Regions from separate parts of the Homo sapiens genome. Here region 2 is linked to region 1. The links come from fine-mapping of genetic effects on gene expression. Tissue or cell type: whole blood. Region 1 holds a variant in brackets; the other region holds the start of a gene. All regions are shown on one strand. Distances are between the middles of the regions.

Region 1 (8,952 bases):
TTTTTTTGTTTTTGTCTTTTTGATAGAGACAGGGTTTCACCATGTTGGCCAGGCTGATCTCTGACCTCAAGTGATCTGCCCGCCTCGGCCTTCCAAAGTGCTGGGATTACAGGTGTGAGCCACCTCACCCAGCCCTGGTGAAAATATTCTATTCTTTGTTGGAGATAATGGGGATAGGTTAGCTGTTGAGTAGCCACAGTTGATTCTCGTTACTTGTGGTTCTCATTACCTTTATTACATTCTATAAAGTTGCCCTCGAACACCGGATTAGCAAATGCTGAATCGTTGCTTCTGGTGGGAATACAGGATTAGTTAGGTTCCTGCTGGAGTGCAGTGGCACAGTCTCAGCTCACTACAGCCTCAACCTCCTGGGCTCAAGTGATCCTGCCGCCTCAGCCTCCCAAGTAGCTGGGACTACAGTTGTAAGCCTCTGGTCACAATGTTTCTGTCAACCATTTAATATATAACCTAATTTTATGGTGTGTTTCTCTTTAAAGACACATTATTAAATATATATTGTGGATCATTAACATTGAACTCATGGCCAGCAGTACTGTAGCTCATGCTTGAATGAAGCTCACAGATGTAACACACACATTCTGTCCTTAGGCACATGACAGTCTTCTTGCATTTAGGGACACCAGGGAGCAGAAAGGACACGTCTCTGCCCTATGAGAGCTCAAACAAGAAGGCAGAGAGTCACCTTGCTTCACCTCAGCTGGACACTTGCAATTGATGACATGAATTTTCCACTGCTTTGTGCTTGTGCCCAAAAGACTGGACAAGCTCCAAAAGGATAATTTTGGGGTTACAAATACTTTATAGACAGTAGGTGAATTAGCAGGTATGAAATACATGAATGAGGTCAAGTGTAGTTTTCTCTGGCACCATGGCAGCAACTTTTCCAAGCAGTGGCGTGACCTCTGCATCACGCTTTGGCCTGAAATGACTTGATGCCATCTGACGCTTTGGCGATTGTGAGTTCCTTCTGGGTTTTAGCGTTGCCCACCGTGTTCAGGCTTTTTGGAGCTGTGCTGCTTGTATGGACTGTAGTCATATTCTGCTCTTTCCACGTTTGGTTTGCTCCCGTTGAAGCCTGGCTCACCTCTTTGCACAGTCGTGCTTTCTTACGTTCTTTCTTCTCTTCCTTGCGATGGTCTGCATTTGTATAGTCAGAATTTCACTCTGCGACTCTTCTGAAGTTCATTTGAACTTTATTCCTAGCGCTTCTGGACAATAGATGTAGCCTTTGTTTTTTTGTTTTTTATTTATTTATTTTTGAGACAAGTCTCACTCTTGTCCAGGCTGGAGTGCAGTGGCATGATCTTGGCCCACTGCAGCCTCGACTTCCTGGGCTCAAGTGATCCTCCTGCCTCAGCCTCCCGAGTACCTGGGACTACTGTTGTGTACCACTATGCCTGGCTAATTTTTGTATTTTTTGTAGAGATGGGGTTTTGCCATGTTGCCTGGGCTAGTCTTGACCTCCTGGCCTCAAACAATCCTCCTGCCTTGGCCTCCCAAAATGCTGGGATTTTTGTGCACCACCGTGCCTGGCCAGTCTTTGTTTTTTTTTTTTTTTTTAATTTTCTCCTTTATTAGATTGAACATTCACATGTTATTTTATGTGCATTATATTTAATAAGTAACTTTCAAATATCCAAAGTAGTTTTCCCAGCATCTTCTTTTGTATTTTTATTAACATATAATAGTTGTATGTATTTTAATAGATGTAGATATACCTTTTGAATCTCAAAATATGTTTTAGTTTTCTAAAGTTAGGGCTTTCACATCTAAGTCACCTGGGGGCTCCTATAAGATCTGGTCTTCCTGGCCTCTCTCAGATCTATTGATTCAACAATTGCAAAGGATGATGTGTTGAAAAGGCTCCGCAGGTGATTCTGATCTACAGGGAGGTGGGAGCCAGGGAACACTCATTTTGAGAGCTGTGGCAGGACTGTCAATAATTAAAAAGAAGAACCTTCAAGACCACCAGCACCACCACTCTTGGGGCACTTTTACTAGACGTCAAGCTCTCTACTAAGCTCTGGGTGTGTTATAATCTTACAACAACCGTTTGATGAAAACGCATACTTCGATGAACCCAAATTCACAGATGAGGAAACAGAAGCTCACAGTGGTAAATAACTTTTCCAAAGTCACACAGGTCCTCAGTGATAGATTGGAACCCAGATGGCTGCCTGGTAACCACAGGTGGTTCAACCTGGAGCCCCACCAGAATCCCCTGGCGGGCTTGTTCAAACAGATTGCTGGGCTTCACCTGCTGAGTTTCTGATTCAGTAGGTCCCTGGTGGGGCCTGAGAATCTGCATTTCTGAGAAGTCTCCCCCCAGCCAGGTGATGCTGGCGTCCTTGTACCCTCTCTCCTTTGTGGGACTGAGTGTATGGCTTTTTCTTCACAATTAACAACGCTCTACATTCTGAAGTCTATTGCACATTGTCCGTTTGGTTGCCATCACCTTCACTGCCCAGGCATTAATAATTTGGTTTTTGTCACCTTTGCGCATTAAATCCACAGACGCACCGGCCCTTAATGTTTCTTTTTCCCCTTTAAGAGACAGCTCAACATCAGGGTGAGTGCAACCTTCAGTTTCTATGATTTCAAGAATACGGCCCTGGATAACTGTTCAACTCTGAATGTTCTTGCTCTAATTTCATCTATCCTGCATTCTAGATGGACTGCCCCCTCTGGTAGTTAGTTGATCTGTTTGGCTTATAAGATTTTTATCCCCCAGTCAATAATAGAAGCGTAGGTGAGAAGATACTTACAAGGAATACAATGATTTTGACACTGTTTTTCTTTTTAAATTTTTAATTTTTGTGGCGACATAGTAGGTGCATATATTTATGGGGTATACGAGATGTTTTGATGCAGGCATGCAATGTGTAATCATTACATCATGGACAATGGGGAATCCATTCCCTCAAGCATTTATCCTTTGTGTTATAAACAATCCATTGACACTCTTAGTTATTTTAAAATGTACAATTACGTTATTATTGACTATAGTCACCCTGTTGTGCTTTCAAATAGTAGGTCTTATTCATTCATTCTATTTTTTTTGTACTCATTAACTATCCCCATCTCCCCTCCAACCCCCCACTACCCTTCACAGTCTGTGATAGCCATTCTTCTATTCTCTATTGACACTGTTTTTAATGAGCCAGAGGCAGTGAACTTTCTCAAGTGTGTAACAGGAGGCTTTCTTAGGGACAGTTGCTGGTGCAGTTAAACTGCCTAGTTGAGGTGTGCCTTGCCTCGCACAATAGATTAATGCATCCCCAAGTTGGATAATATCGTCATGCATGAAAGCAGCCTGCTAGTCTAAGGGAGTCCTATAGCAAACCATCTTTATAAAGTGAACAGTGACACCCAATTTATAAATCTAAATTTTCGCCATTTTCTTAAAATGAAATATAGTTTCAAACTGGGGTACTAATGTCTGAAAAGGTTTTATGCCTCTACAGTTAATTTACCCTGAGACAGTAATTTCTAGTAACTCTAGTCATTTCTAAATAGTCTGAGTCAGTTTTCCTAGAATTTAGGACAGGACCTCAAAAAAATACAGTTCAAGCTCTTTCCCCATGTTTCAGGGAATCTTAGAATTCCCCTGGTAGTTTCCTGGTCTTAGGGAATCTTTTACAAGTGTGTTTAGGCTTGAAGTGGTTTGTGCAATTGCTGAATGTGTTGTTGTTATGCAGTCGTGTGTTGACTTTTTCTCAATGCAGTTCTTCCTCATGCACTTGCATCTTTATGGTTATACATTTACTTCCAGGTATCATTTCACTCTCCTAAATGTGTTTTTCCACCTCAGAGAAGCCACAGAAGTAGCAAACACTAACCCAAACCAAAAGGAACAATTTGATCGATGCACTCATAACCATCATCACAAAACTTTTCCTGCCCACTGATTCAGCCTGTTGTTTTAAAATGAGATAATATTTAACTGGCATATTGGTCATGACTCATCGATAGTTAACAATCATTTTGTTTCCTGACAATACACATTTGAGTTCAGTTCGTATTGAAGCGCTTGACAAAAAAATCACATTGCTTAGGACTAGACTTTCTGTGCACATTTCACAATTTTTAAAACATTAACCTTTTTTCAAATTTCAAGTGTCATCTCCATTCACTGTGGAAAATGTGAAGTATTCAAAAGGCACAAATATACCCAACACAGAAATTATGCATACATCCATCACTCAGAGACACTAACCTATATCATAGGTAGATTAACAT[A/C]TCAAATTATATATATATATACACACCATATATATATATATAAACCATATATTTATATAAACCATATATATATATATATATATATATATATATATATATAGTATATGGTTTGTAGATATTACATTTATACCCAGGTATGTACATATGGGGTCATATGTCTTAGTATGCTGTAACATGTGTTTTCCATTTAGCAATTATTCAAATATTTTCCTGGGTCAGATATTTTTCTACACCAAAATTCTTAATGTCTGGTTAGTATTTTCTTATATTATAGAACCCAGAGGTACTGTGATTTCCTTAACCAGTCTTCGGAATTTTAGAATATTTCTGATTTTTTGATATGATTAGAAGTGCTGCAGCAGGCCGGGCGTGGTGGCTCACGCCTGTAATCCCGGCACTTTGGGAGGCAGAGGCGGGCGGATCAGGAGGTCAGGAGATTGAAACCATCCTGGCTAACACGGTGAAACCCTGTCTCTACTAAAAATACAAAAAATTAGCTGGGTGTGGTGGCGGGTGCCTGTAGTCCCAGCTACTCGGGAGGCTGAGGCAGGAGAATGGCGTGAACCAGGGAGGCAGAGCTTGCAGTGAGCGGAGATCGTGCCACTGCCCTCCAGCCTGAGCGACAGTGTGGACTCAGTCACAAAAAAAAAAAAAAAAAAAAGTGCTGCAGCAAACTTCTGTATTTATGTGTTTACACACTTGTATGGTATATTAAAATCCTAGAAAAAAGCGTTTCTGCATCCAGTGTTGTACACATTTGGGATTTTGATTCTTACTTCGAAATTACCTCCCCAACCCCTTGCAAAACCACCTCAAGATGTACATCTAGGTTTTTTATACTTTTGTTTATTATTGTAGTTATTACTTTTGTTTATTATTGTAGTTATTATTACTTCTATATGTAAGTTATCTGGAATTTATTTTATACTAAATTTATTTTGGTGTAAAGATAGGGGTAAAATGTCTTAGCTAAGTTCTTTTCTGTGTAACTAATTATTAATAATTGGTGTCTAACACCGATTATTGACTAATCCATTTACTTCCCATTTATATGAAATCTCACATTTACCAACAATTAAGATCATTGATCTATTAATATTTCTGGACTTTTGATTTTTTTCAGTTATCTAATGTCTTATTCTTCCTTAGATACCATACCTCTGTATTGGAATGCCTTATTTTATTTATTTATTTATAGTAAAGCCTTCCTTGTATTCTTGTGTTTCGAAGTTTTATTGACTACACTAGCCCAGTTATCTTACATATGAATTTATGGAGTCAATTTTTAAGTAAAATAAAATCTTAGTAGCTGGGATCAGAATGGTATTTATTAGTAGACTTGGAAAGAATAGACTCATTTATAATAGGCCAATTGGCTTATCTCTCTAATTTACCTAGGTCTAATTAGGTCCTCCAATAATTTGTTATTTTGATTTGTGTGGATTTTACATATTGTTACATTTTTCCCTAGGTATTTTGTTCTGTTCAATTTTGCTTTTGTTGTTATTATGAATATACCTTTCCCTGTTAAATATATAAAATGTCAAATAAATATATAGATATCAAATATTTATCAAAATGGCAAATATTTTGATATAAAATATCAAATATTTTTCAAAATATATGTGTGTGTGTATATATATATATATTTTTTTTTTTTTTTTGAGACAGAGTCTTGCTCTGTCACTCAGGCTGGAATGCAGTAGAATGATCAAGCTTACTGCAGCCTTGAACTCTTGGGCTCAAGCAAGCCTCCCCTCTCAGCCTCCTGAGCAGCTAGTACTACAGGCATTCACCGCTACACACAACTAATTTTTAAGTATTTTGTAAAGACAGGGTCTTGCTATGTTGCCCAGGCTGGTCTCGGACTCCTAGGCTCAAGCATTCCTCCTGCCCCAGCCTCCCAAATATATTTTTTGCTTGTTAATTTTATAGGGTAAACTATTGGTTATTGAATACTTATTTTATAGCCTGCTATGTTTGTGACTCTCTTTTAGTTATTAAAGTCTGCTTGTCTTAGTTGATATTTTAACTTCAATTGTATCCTAAGCAAACAGTGGTCATTTTCTCTGTCTGTCCTGGTAATTGAAGCTCTTATTTCTTTTACTTGCTTTGTTTGGTAGGCTAGCATTTTTTTACTGGTGTTACATATTAATTGTGATGGGAGTCTTACCCATGGTTTTAATGGGAATGTCATTATTACATCACCATAAGTATGATGTTGGCTGTTAGTTTGAGACTAGGATTGTTCTTTTGGTCTTAGTTGACTATTTTTTAAAAACAGGAAATGACTTATCAGATGCCTTTGAAAAATTAATGAAATCATGTGTTTTTTTTTTTACTAATTTATACGATGATAATGCTAATTTATAACTTCTTTTTCTGGGACCAATCTCTGCTGATGGAAGTATATTTTCTGCTGTTATACTAGTGGATTTAAAAATATTTTATTTAATTTTTTAAAATGAATATTCCTAAGTGACACTGGACTGTGGTTTTAGTGTGTACTGTGCATTATTAGATTTTTCTGTCAAGGTCATTAAATGTTATAAAATGAGTGGAAAAGTGTTCCTTTTTTTACTGTCGTCTGAAACATTTTATAATGCTTCAGAGATCATTCTTAACAGCCTTTTCAAATTCACCTATAGCTTTTGGTTAATTTGATGTTGTTTATTTTTATTGTCAGTTGTGTTCATTTGTATTTACCCAAAAAATTCCTTGTTTCATTGAGGATTTTCAAATTTATTGTTCTAAATAATTTCCTCTCATTTTTGAATTACTGCCATTTTTTGTTATATATTCTTTTATTCTTGTTAACAAATTCCCTTGTTAAATATTCCTCATTGTGTGTGTTTGTGTTTTCTCATTTTCTTTAAATAGACTAGACAGAGGTTTGTGGATGGTAGAATTTGTTTTGGGTAAGGTTTTTCAGAGAATTGAGTTGGACCACTATTTGGTTTTTAATGAATAAATTTCCACTTTTAATTATGTTAATGCTTCATTTCTGTTTTTCTTAGTTTTTATTTTGTTGTTCTCTTTTTAACTTCTCAAGTTGGACCACTGGTGCGTTTAGTTTTATCCTTTCTTATTTAATGACAACATCATTTAATAATTTTCTTATGATTGTAGTTTTGGCCATATCACTATTATGAATTATTATGTGTGTTATTATCATTATTGCTATTTTCTAACTAATTTGTAATTCCATTTCTTTACCCCTTGACCCAGTAGTTATTTAAGAGCATGTTTCCTAAATGACTAAGGGTATAGTAGACTTTATTTTAGAGCAGTTTTAGGTTTACAGAAAAATTCAGCAGAAAGTACAGAGTTCCCATGTATTACCTCCCCCTGCTCCCATAGTCTCCACTGTTTTAACATCTTCTATGGGTGTTGTACGTTTGATAAAATTGGAGAAACAAATATTCATACACTATCATTAAGTTACATCCATAATTTAAGTTAGGGTCTACTTTTTGCATTGTACAGTACTGTTGGTGTTGTCAGATGTTCTTTGTGATTTCTTTGTAACTCTGTGATGAGCATTTTGTATTTTTCTCTATCTCAGGTACTTAGGATAAGTTTCTGAGGATAAGTATCTCAAATGTTTGCTTGGGATAAGTTTCTAGAAGCAAAATGAGCAGGTCAAAGGGTAAGGATGTTTTCTAGGCTTTTGATAGATTTGGCCAGATTCTTTATTGGCCCTGTGAACCATTAGGGAAGCTATGCCATTTCTTGGCTGTAGGTATTCAGAGTTGTTTTCCACAGGATGTCAGGTCTCTCTGCAGATAAACTGTGAAGTGCCGAGTATGGGCTCTGGTTCTCCACTGATTTCTGTTTTTCCTGAGGGGGACTCTTAGGTGAGGGAGCAAGGAAGCCCTTCCAATTCACCTTACATGGATTCAAGATGTCCAGACTCCTTGGTAATTAAAGGCTAAGATTCAGGTTTCCTCCATTCTCCAAACACAGCCTCTTAGAGTCCCTACTGCCACATAGGAGAAATTTACATTTGCTGAGTAACCAGGATGGACATGTCACATACTTTGTCATCTTAAAATATATGTGTGCATTAAATAGGATGTGGATGAGGAAACCAAGGCTGTGAGAGGGGAGGTGAGGGCTGAAGTCCAAGGTCAGCGGCTGGTTGAGGATTTAAGCACAAGTCTATTTGGCTCCCAAGCACCTGCTTTTTCCCTTCAGCTGAAGGGCAGGCTTTGTTGGTGGGTGACTGCCCAAGTTCCAGAAGTGAAATCCTAATGATATTTCCCCTCGTAAATCATGGGGGCATCTCATTGAAACAGCAAATGTCTACCTTCCCATCTGATACCCTGCTCCCTTCCCTGATACAGGAGGCTCCCCTGGGAGCCCTTTGATTTCCCAGTTTATTAATTTTTTAGAAAGAAAGAGAGCCAAACCCCATCACACTCCCTTTGCAACTCTAAAAGCTCAAACTAATAACTTATTGAGCTCATGCTCTATGCCAGGTGTGCTATGTGTATTCCCTCACGGAATCCTCCCTGATGTGGAGTTAGTACCATCTGCATTTTACTGATAAGGGAAGTAAGGCTTACAACAGCTAAGTGACTTGTCCAGAGTCACAGCACTGAGAAGCTGTGGAGCCAGGAGGGTGGACGCTAGACTGCCTTCATCTACAGTATTACTCTTGACCACGTGAGGCCACAGTTTATGGAGCAT
Region 2 (8,952 bases), 46 kb before region 1:
TTGCTATTTTCTCTCTCTGACATTCTCTGCCCTTTGATTTGATTTGTGTCCTCCTTCATTTTGTTCAAATTTCTGTTGCAATGTCACCACCTTAGTGAGGTATTGCCTAAGCACCTTATCTAAGCCAGCACCCCTTCCTGTCCCCGGCACCCTCCATCTCAGTTCCTGTCGCTTTACCTGCTTCACTTTTCTTCCTACTTCACATCACTACCTGAAATAAAATTATGTATATATGTGTTTTATTTTCTTGGTTTATTCTGTCTCCTCTGTACTGTAAGCTCCATAAGGACACTGTTTTGTTCAACAAGAATAAGCTCCATAAGGGTAGGACACTATTTTGTTCAACAAGAATAATATCTAGCACACTGTAGATACTAAATAAGTATGACTTTAATAATAATAAACATTATTATGGAAGTAAAATATACCAAATGAATGCTGAAAATAAAGCCTAATTAGTAACAAGAATTTCTGCATAGCTTGAAAACAATACTCAGTTTGAAGGTTTTATTTGACTTACTGCCTTTCTATAGGAATCTTTGACATTCAAGGATATTAGTGACTCATATTAAGTTTGAAATGGGTAATAGTTGTCATTACAACAGGGACTATTACTCAGCCCTTATTATAGATGCTTTGCATGGATTAGCTTATTTAATTCTCAAAACAACTCTATGGGGTATCTATCACCTCAATTTATAGATAGGGTGTGGTGGTTTTAAACCATGTCCATAAATTCTTTGATAGTCCTCCCTTTAAAAGGTGGATTCTAATTTGCTTCCTTTTGAGTATGAGCTTGGCTTAGTGGTTCAGTTCTAAAGAATAGAATAAGTGACTATGTTTGGTGTCTAAGATGAGATATTCAAAGGCATTGTGACTTCCTCCTTGCTCTCTCTCTCGGATCACCCAATGTGGGTCTTGGTTTTTCCATCTTCAAAGTGAGGTGTGTGGATCAGATAACATCTCCAGTTATCCAACCTGACATGTCGTAAATCATCTGTGCATCAAATAGTCTTCTTAGCATGGACTATAACATCAGATTCGTTAGCTGCTCTGTGCTAGAAAGAGTTGAAGCTTTGACAGTTTTGCTTCATTTTGTTGGATTTGGGGGGCCAAGATCAGAATGACATGAGAACACTCAAGCAACTTTATGGAGAGACCCATGTGGCTAGGAGCTTAGGCCTCCTGCCAACAGCCATATGAGGGTGCCATCTTGGAGGTGGATTCTCCAGCCCAGCCAACCCTTCAGGTCAATGCAGTCCTAGCAAGCATTTTGACTGCAATCTCACAAGAGATCCTGAGCCAGAACCACCCCCAGTTAAGTTGCTGTCAAATCCACAACCCACACAAACTGTGAAATTAGAAAAACCTTTTGTTTAAAACCATTAAGTTTTGGGGATAATTCATCATGCAGTAATAAATAACACATACATTTGGAAATGGAAGGGTAGAGAGGTTAAACAAAGAGGCTGACACCAGATATCTAGTAGTGATGATGCAAGAATTGGAACCCAGGCCATCTGCCTCTGGAGCCCACATGTTCAGCCACCACAGGATACAGGAGGTCAAGATTATGTCTCAAGTAATACCGGAAGGAGAATATTGCCACATTTCAATGCCACTGTTAAGGCAGTGGATACGATCTTTCCTTGGACATTACACTTGCTGGTCTTGCTCTATTATATTAAAAAGGCCGTGTTCCAGGCAGCTACTGCCCTTGCTTCTAAGTTCCCTTTCTGTCTCAGATTTGTTTTGGCGTAAACACCTACCGTTTCAGTATTCCTTCCACCATTCCTTTAGGCTTCTGCTCAGACCCGATTCCCATCATGTAATTCTGGTAAAACTGCCAATTGTCATATTGTTCCCATAGATAGGAGTATGACTTAAGCCTGGCCAATCATAGTGTCCTATCAGTTATTGACTATGGTGATTGGACCAGTAAGACAGCATATGAGCTACATTGGCCCAATAGAGTCCTTCCCTGGGATTTAGAAATACTGTATAAGGCATAAGCCCAGGTGAGTGGCCAGGTGCCATATTCTCAGCTGCATGGAAGAAGCCTGTCTTCAGCAGGAAAGATACCAGCATGCAGAAAGAAGGAGAGAGTAAGAGAGGCTATTTTGTATCCTTTCATACCTTGAATCCGGCCAATCCTGAGAGCAATTCCATCCTTTTCTAGTCTATATGAGTCAGGAAATACTCTGTTGTTTTAAGTTAGAGCTTTCTATCAGTTCATCTTGAGTTACGACCAATATGAATAGTCTACCACAGTTTGTGGAAGATGGCAGCTATCTTCCATTCTCCATGAGCAACACTAGTTCTCTATCATCTGGAGAACCTAGAGCCTCACTGTTAATTGGTTGGGCTGAACTTCCTACAGTGGGTGAAGACCCTTCCCCCCTTCATCCCTCAGGAAGCACCTGCCTTTTCTGGAAGCTAGCCATGGTCTGGGGGTAAGCTCAAAATAAAATTGTGTTATGACGGATGGGTAGCTCAGTCACTCAGTTTAAAACCTTAGTCATCTCTGTATCCTTTCCTTAGTCGCGGCCCCTCCCCAAGTCCTCAATGCACACACATCCTGTTAGTCATCAAGTCCTGTTGATCTGAATCGAATGCTTCATGGAAGTAGGTGGAGTAACCATAATGAAAGTTAGCCTGGTTCTTCCTTCTGAACATCTCGCAAATCCCATTTTTCTTCTTCATTTCCACTGCTAACACCAGGGACCATTGCAATTGGTCTCCCTGCCCCTAACCTCAAACCCTGCAGTTGATTTCCCATATTTCTTCTAGAATTTGTTTTCTACAGTGCACTTTTGATAGTCACATGCTTTTGATTGATTCAAAAGTCTTCATCAGTTTCTCCACTGTTGACCTACTAAATAGCAAACTTCTTAGCTTGGCTTTCAAGACTATCTCCGAACTGACCCACATTCACCATCCAGGGTCCTGTGACCTCCATAAACCAGTCCTCCAATCTTCTCATACCCTTCCCATAGCAGAATTGCTTACCATCTACTCTGACTTCTTCTCCTCACGGAAAACACTGTCCTTCCTTTTCTATGAGTCTTCAAGATCCATTTCAGTCCTAAAACATTTCCTGAGCATGGTCATCCACACTAAGTATCCTCTTCTGTGAACTCTGTAAACAACTGTTGTCTAGACTAGGGTTTTTCAAACTGCACTCACATTCTCAGGGAGTACTTGGCCAGTACAAGTCAAGCTTTTGGTGTTTTTGTAAAACTACTGATTATATATTCAAATTTGGCTTAGTATATTATTTCCAAGCCCAGTTTCCTTCTTGTCTTCTTCCAAATTACATCCTCATGCTATGGTGGTGCATTTATTCGTGAGTACAAATTAAGACTCATTAAAATTTGTTTAGCTACCTACAGATAGAGAACTGCTTATTATTACTGTTATTATTTAAAACCATGACCACCGGGAAAATATCAATATGAAGAGAGAAGTTCTATAACAATTTCAACAGTTTCTAAGCCAAATATGCTTTCTGATTTATTAATTCCTTATCCTCACCATTTTTTCCTTATCTTCATGCGGGATTTTAACTAGAAATTGGTATAAAATTTGTTATATTGGCATAGTTCGAAAAACAATCACTGTGTACCTACTCTCTCTCAGGAACAGTGGAAGATGCTTGCGATACAAAGATAAACAAGCCCCTATACGAAGAACAAGAATGTTCCAGATGGATTCAATGTGGAAGGACATTCTAGGCAGGGGGAACAGCAAATGCAAATCCATGTGTCCTGGAATGAGCCAGACATGCTTCAGGTTCCATGGAGTTTTTTTTTTTTTTTTTTTTTTTTGGATTAAAAAATTTGGTGACTTTTCAAAGTTTGACAACCTCAGGATTAAACAATTTATCGAGCCCCTCTGCCATCTCACTCTCCATGAGGGCAGTCCAGGTTGAGACTCAGATACAAATCACCTTTATTGAGTTCTGCTGGGATGGACAGGTCACTTCATGTATACGTAGATCCTCTCCTTAATTCTATTTAAATCACTTAGGTGACTATCACCATCTCCCATCAGGGTTCGGTGACCTGCCCACAGCCTCCCAAGTAGAAAATGATCCAGGGAGCATGTGAGTTAATGATACATCACATCTGGAGCCAGGCAGGCATTTCATGGGTGGGGATGAAGATCTTCCCTCCAATTTCAGAAGTCTGACCTTGCAGGTTCTGAAGTAACTATATACATAAATATTTATAAGGAGAACCCTTTAAGCAGAGGGGTGACCATTTATCCATGAGAGATGGCTTAGGAACGGATTTGGGTTTTGGAGAGCTTCTCTAGCTCCTCCAGCTCCGCAGCCTGTCACACGCAGGATGACCTTTTAGAACAACTGAGTGCTCCATTACACTCCTCACTTGCGGATTCAAACTGTCTCTGGGCAGGGTCCCAGTTTTGCCTGTCCAGGGACACTGTGCACTTGGGTTGACTTTGGTAAATGTTTGAGTAAGGGATGAGTGAATAAATTCGGGGAGAGGGGTTGTTGAGGGAAGGCCACCCCTGGCTCTAAAGACTTTCCAGGGTTTATGGGGTGGCCACGCCTGTCCTGGATCCCCATGGTGCCTCTGGATGGGCCATTTCATCCTTCCTCCCTGTGGCCTCCACATCTTACAACCCAGCCTGGAGGGAGGGGCCGCGCAGCCCCGAGGGGCCAGGTCTCCCAGGCGGCGTCCACTCCCCTCGAGGGTGGAGGAGGTAGGTGGGGACCCCGGGCCGGCGGGGCTCGGCTGGGGCCCCTTCCCTGAGGTCTGCAGCCGCAGCCCTCTACCTGGCTCCCCGGCCGCCCCTTCGCGGCCCCAGATCGGGCGCACCCGGCGGGCACCTGGCCCGCCGCCCCCCGGGGGCCCCGCCAGCTGCTCCCGAAGCCGGCCCGGGGTGGCGGGGCGGGCCCGAGCGCTAGTCGACTCTGGGACCGGTCCCCCGGGGCGCGGCCGGGCAGCAGCCCCCGCCTCCCCGCCCCGGGGGCCGGGCCGGGCTCCCGGGGGGCGGGGACTCGCCCAGTGGCAGCAGCGTCCGGGCCGGCGGCGGGCGCCGGGCGGCTTCCTGCAGGCGGCGCCGGGGCGAGCCGTTGCCGGCTGCAGCCACCGCCGCCGGGTCGCCGGGTCGCGGGGGCCGCGGCGCTCGGGCCGCGTCCGTGCCTCCCGGGCGCGCTGCGCGGCCGTCGCTGCTGCCCGCGCTCGTGCCGCCGCCGCCGCCGCCGCCGCTGCTGCCGGTTACGCCAGCCCCGCCGCCGCCCGCTCTGATTCTGCGCATAGGCAGCCCCCAAGCCTGTCATTCTGCAAAAACACAGTTTACTCAACACACCACACACACTCGCACACACACGCGCGCACACACACGCGCACACCGGACCCCGCGCGCACACGCACGGAGGGCGCGAGCGAGCAGACGCGCACACCGGCGAGCCAAGTTCCGCAGCCTGGCATGGCTTCTGGGGACCTTTACGAGGTACGGGGACGCGGGGGCGCGGGCCGGCCCCAGTCAGCGGGCGGCGGCGGGCGGCGGCGGCGGGCGGCGGGGACCGGGCCGGGGCCGGGGCCGGGCGCAATCCGGAGTTGCCGAGCCCGCGGCGGCGGCGGCGGCGGCCGGAGGGTGGCGGGGGCCGGGCGCGCCTCCCGCCCGCCGCCCGCCGCCCGCCGCCTCCCGCGGCGCCCGCGCCCGCTCCCTCTTTCTCTTTCTCTCGCACACACACTCTCTTACTCCATCTACTTTGCGGCCTTGGAGGGGAAGGAGGAAGCCGGGCGGAGCCGGGGCGGGGGAGGTAGCGGTCCCGGGGAGGTGTTTCTCGCCCGACGAGCCGCCTCGAGTACAGAAAGTACAGGTAAAAGTCGGCGCCGGACGTGCTGGGAATGCGGGGGGGCGCGCCGCGGCCGGCGGGGGTGTGGGGCGGGGGTTGCGCGGCCCGGCTGGGCCGGGGGCGCGGGGGAGGAGGGGGGCGGGCGATCGGAGCGGAGCCTGGCCGGGGCGAGGCGGGGTCCCGGGGGGCTGCGAAGGGGGAGGCTGGGTGGGGGTTCGGGGGGACAACCGCCAAACCGCTCCCCGGGGTCCCCGGGCCACCTCCCTCACCCCCCACCTGCTGCCCCCGCACCAGCTCGGACGCCCTCCGGGCTCGGGCGTGGGGGTGGCCCTTGCGGGTGTCGTGCTCCCTGGGGGCGAAAGGGGGCGCTGCGGAGGGCCCTGGGTGGGAGGAGAACGTGGAAGTCTGAGGTGTTGGGGACATAGGACACAGATGCCAGCCCAGCGCCCAGTACTCTCGTCACCCTCAGTGGATACCTGGCTCCAGGTCCTAATGAGTAGTGGCCAGCGTTGGATACTCTCATGTCTTCCCAAAAGTGGCGAAGGAAGACATTAGTCTGGCATCTTTCAAACAATGGAGGAACACCCATGGTCTTTGGGGAGCAAGGGCTTAGGAACACAACTGTTACTGCTTTGGGTTTTCCACAAGTGGACAACACAAGGAACAGCCAGCCACCACTCCCCAGAGGGAATGGCCTCAGAGGTGTTGGCCGCCAAGACCAGGTTCAGGATAAAGAAGTTAAGAGACCAGCCATCTTCAACCAGAGGGCCTTCTGGGCCTCCGTGAAACCAGCCGCATGGGTTAGCCTGGACCTGCACTTCCCGGAACATAAATTGGTTAACGCCATCTGGTTCTTAAGGCTTTGGGGCTCCATTGAGATAAGCACCCAGAAGGGGTAGAATTAGCCTTTTGCATAAGACATTGTAGGGTGATCCACCCACGACAGACTGCAGGGGGTGATTCCTAAGAAGCTCTTTCCTCTAGGCCCTCGTGGGCAGTTGAAGCTTTTTCAGGTGGTGGGTTTGCTGACTGGCGTTAGAGAAGAAGAATGGAGAAAGGAGCACAGGTCTCCTGTGTGACCATGTTCTTGTGAATGATTCTGGAGTTGGTGAGGCCCAGGCCTGGACTGCCGGCCAGCAGGTTCAGGTGGGGTGGGTGGGAGACCTTAGAGCTCCTTGAAAGAATGGTGTATGTTGCCCTCTTCACTACCCTGTGGCCGTCCTCATCTCTATGCTAAGAGACAAGGTGAAGTTGGATAGAGATCTTGTGAAGAACTTCGGCAAATGTGGCCAATGGATCACCCAAGCGCCTTGGTCTGTTTCAAGATGGTGGAACAATTTCTGAAATTGAAAATTGAAGCACAGTAAAATAGAAGGTTTGATTGAGTTTCCTTATGTGTAACCAGTACTGTGGGGACATTGGCTAAAAGTAGATATTGTTTAGGGGTGAAAGTGATCTGGTTGGAATCATGGTTTTCTACGAATTGAGGTTGAGTCAGCTTAGAGCTGTTGACCTTGCCTGAGTGAAAAGTTGTGTCTTGAAGGTGTTAAGAGGATGTACTAGGAGTCATCAGTATTTCCCCATTTAAAGTTTAGAACTTATGAACCTTCTGGGGATAATTTCTTGTTTAATGTTCATCTGCAACTGCCCTCCTTAACGCTGGTAATTGTCGTTGCCAGATTAGTCTGTTAAGAGGAGAGTTTTCACGGTGGCCTTGGAACTATCTTAGTATCTCAAGAGTTTTTATAGAATTTCAGTTAAGGAGGACAATAATAATAATTACTTCTGTGATAGTAGGTAATTGTACTAGATGGAAAATGGCTTTCCCATGGCTGATTATTTGCATAGTCATTACTAAAAGGGCTAAATTGCATTACGAGAATATAACGAATGTCAACATTTTTATAGCCTGTGTCTACATTACATAACATATACTGAGAAATTTAATTTATTGTTCAAATTTAGCTTTAAGAACAATTAAGAAGTGCTAAGTGTACATTAGCATATATATTTCTGACTGTAAAGTTGTTATGTGGGTAAAAAGTAGCATATTGATTTAAGAAAAATATTGGAATATCCAGTGTATGTTGACTGGCCTTGAAAGGAAAAAAAGAAAACAGATTTCATTCTAAATTATGAGACCTGTTTATTACTTTCATTAAATATTATACTAAAGTGTACATAAAATGGCTTCTCGCAATCTCTACTCAAGAAACCACGTTTTTAGTGGGCCAAGAGTTCTTACGTTTGTAATTGATATATTTCACCTGTGTGTCTGCTGACATTATCTTTGAGCCTTTATGGTGAAGTGTGATTTGGATTGTAGAGATTCTTCATCTTTTCTTTGGCATTTCAGACAATTAAGTTGTAAAGAGTGAACCTCCATAAAGCAGTTGTTAGGAATAGGTGCTGATTTTTAAAGACACCAGAAAACGAAAACTTTGTTTATGTAATAGCACTCTTCAATCATAGTGAAGAAATAAGAAATCAAGCTCAGGTTCCAAAATCTTGGATCTTGATAGATAGTTCTGGTTTGTTTCTCCTGTAGTGGAGTTCTCATCATCTTCTGGTGCATTGTAGCCATCACTTATAGGAAGGTGATTTTAAATTTTGGGTTATGTCTTAGAGTCAGGTATCTGTCTGGATCGAAAGTGAAATTTCTTAGCCAGATGCCCTGGTCTATATTCGGCTAAACATAGGGGCCATGGAGTGGCAGCCTGTGAGCCAGGTCTAGGCTGCATACGCATTTTGACTTGGCTCAATGGTAGATAAGAAAAACGATTTGAACACTTTTAGATGGAGCATATGATCTCTAGCTTGTCCCTGTCCCCTTGCTCCCTATTACCAGGCACCCATTCTTCTTAAATCATTCACTGGGCTCCAGTAGACTTTAGAGTTTGCAACCTGATTCTAGTCAATCTTTTGCTAAGATGTTTGGGTGTCAGGAAGAAATAATCAGTGGGATAGGCTCTCAGTTTTCTTGTCTCTCTCTGGGTTTCTACCTGCTTGTACGTTCAATTACTTGTTGACTGAATCAGTGAGCAGAAGACTGGTTTAAGTATATAAAGTACCCTTGTGTGACCTTCGTTGTCCTTCTGTTGAGTGTTACCCTCTATTGTCTT

What was found. PIP is the estimated chance that this variant, and not a neighbour inherited with it, causes the effect.
Region 2: CDYL2 starts here. The variant in region 1 is fine-mapped to the expression of CDYL2 in whole blood (INTERVAL, PIP 0.99).

Annotation. Positions count from the first base shown.
Region 1 is chr16:80,754,511-80,763,462 of GRCh38, reverse strand. All of the region lies in intron 1 of CDYL2 (chromodomain Y like 2), which reads left to right. Among named protein-coding and RNA genes, the nearest start is that of CDYL2, 46 kb to the left of the region's middle. The variant A/C (reference allele first, on the strand shown) is at 4,261.
Region 2 is chr16:80,800,679-80,809,630 of GRCh38, reverse strand. It overlaps CDYL2 (chromodomain Y like 2), which reads left to right and starts at 5,033. Exons shown (of 7, transcript NM_152342.4): 1 at 5,033-5,481. The coding sequence starts at 5,458. RefSeq lists silencers at 4,753-4,812, 4,833-5,142, 5,753-5,822, 6,103-6,252.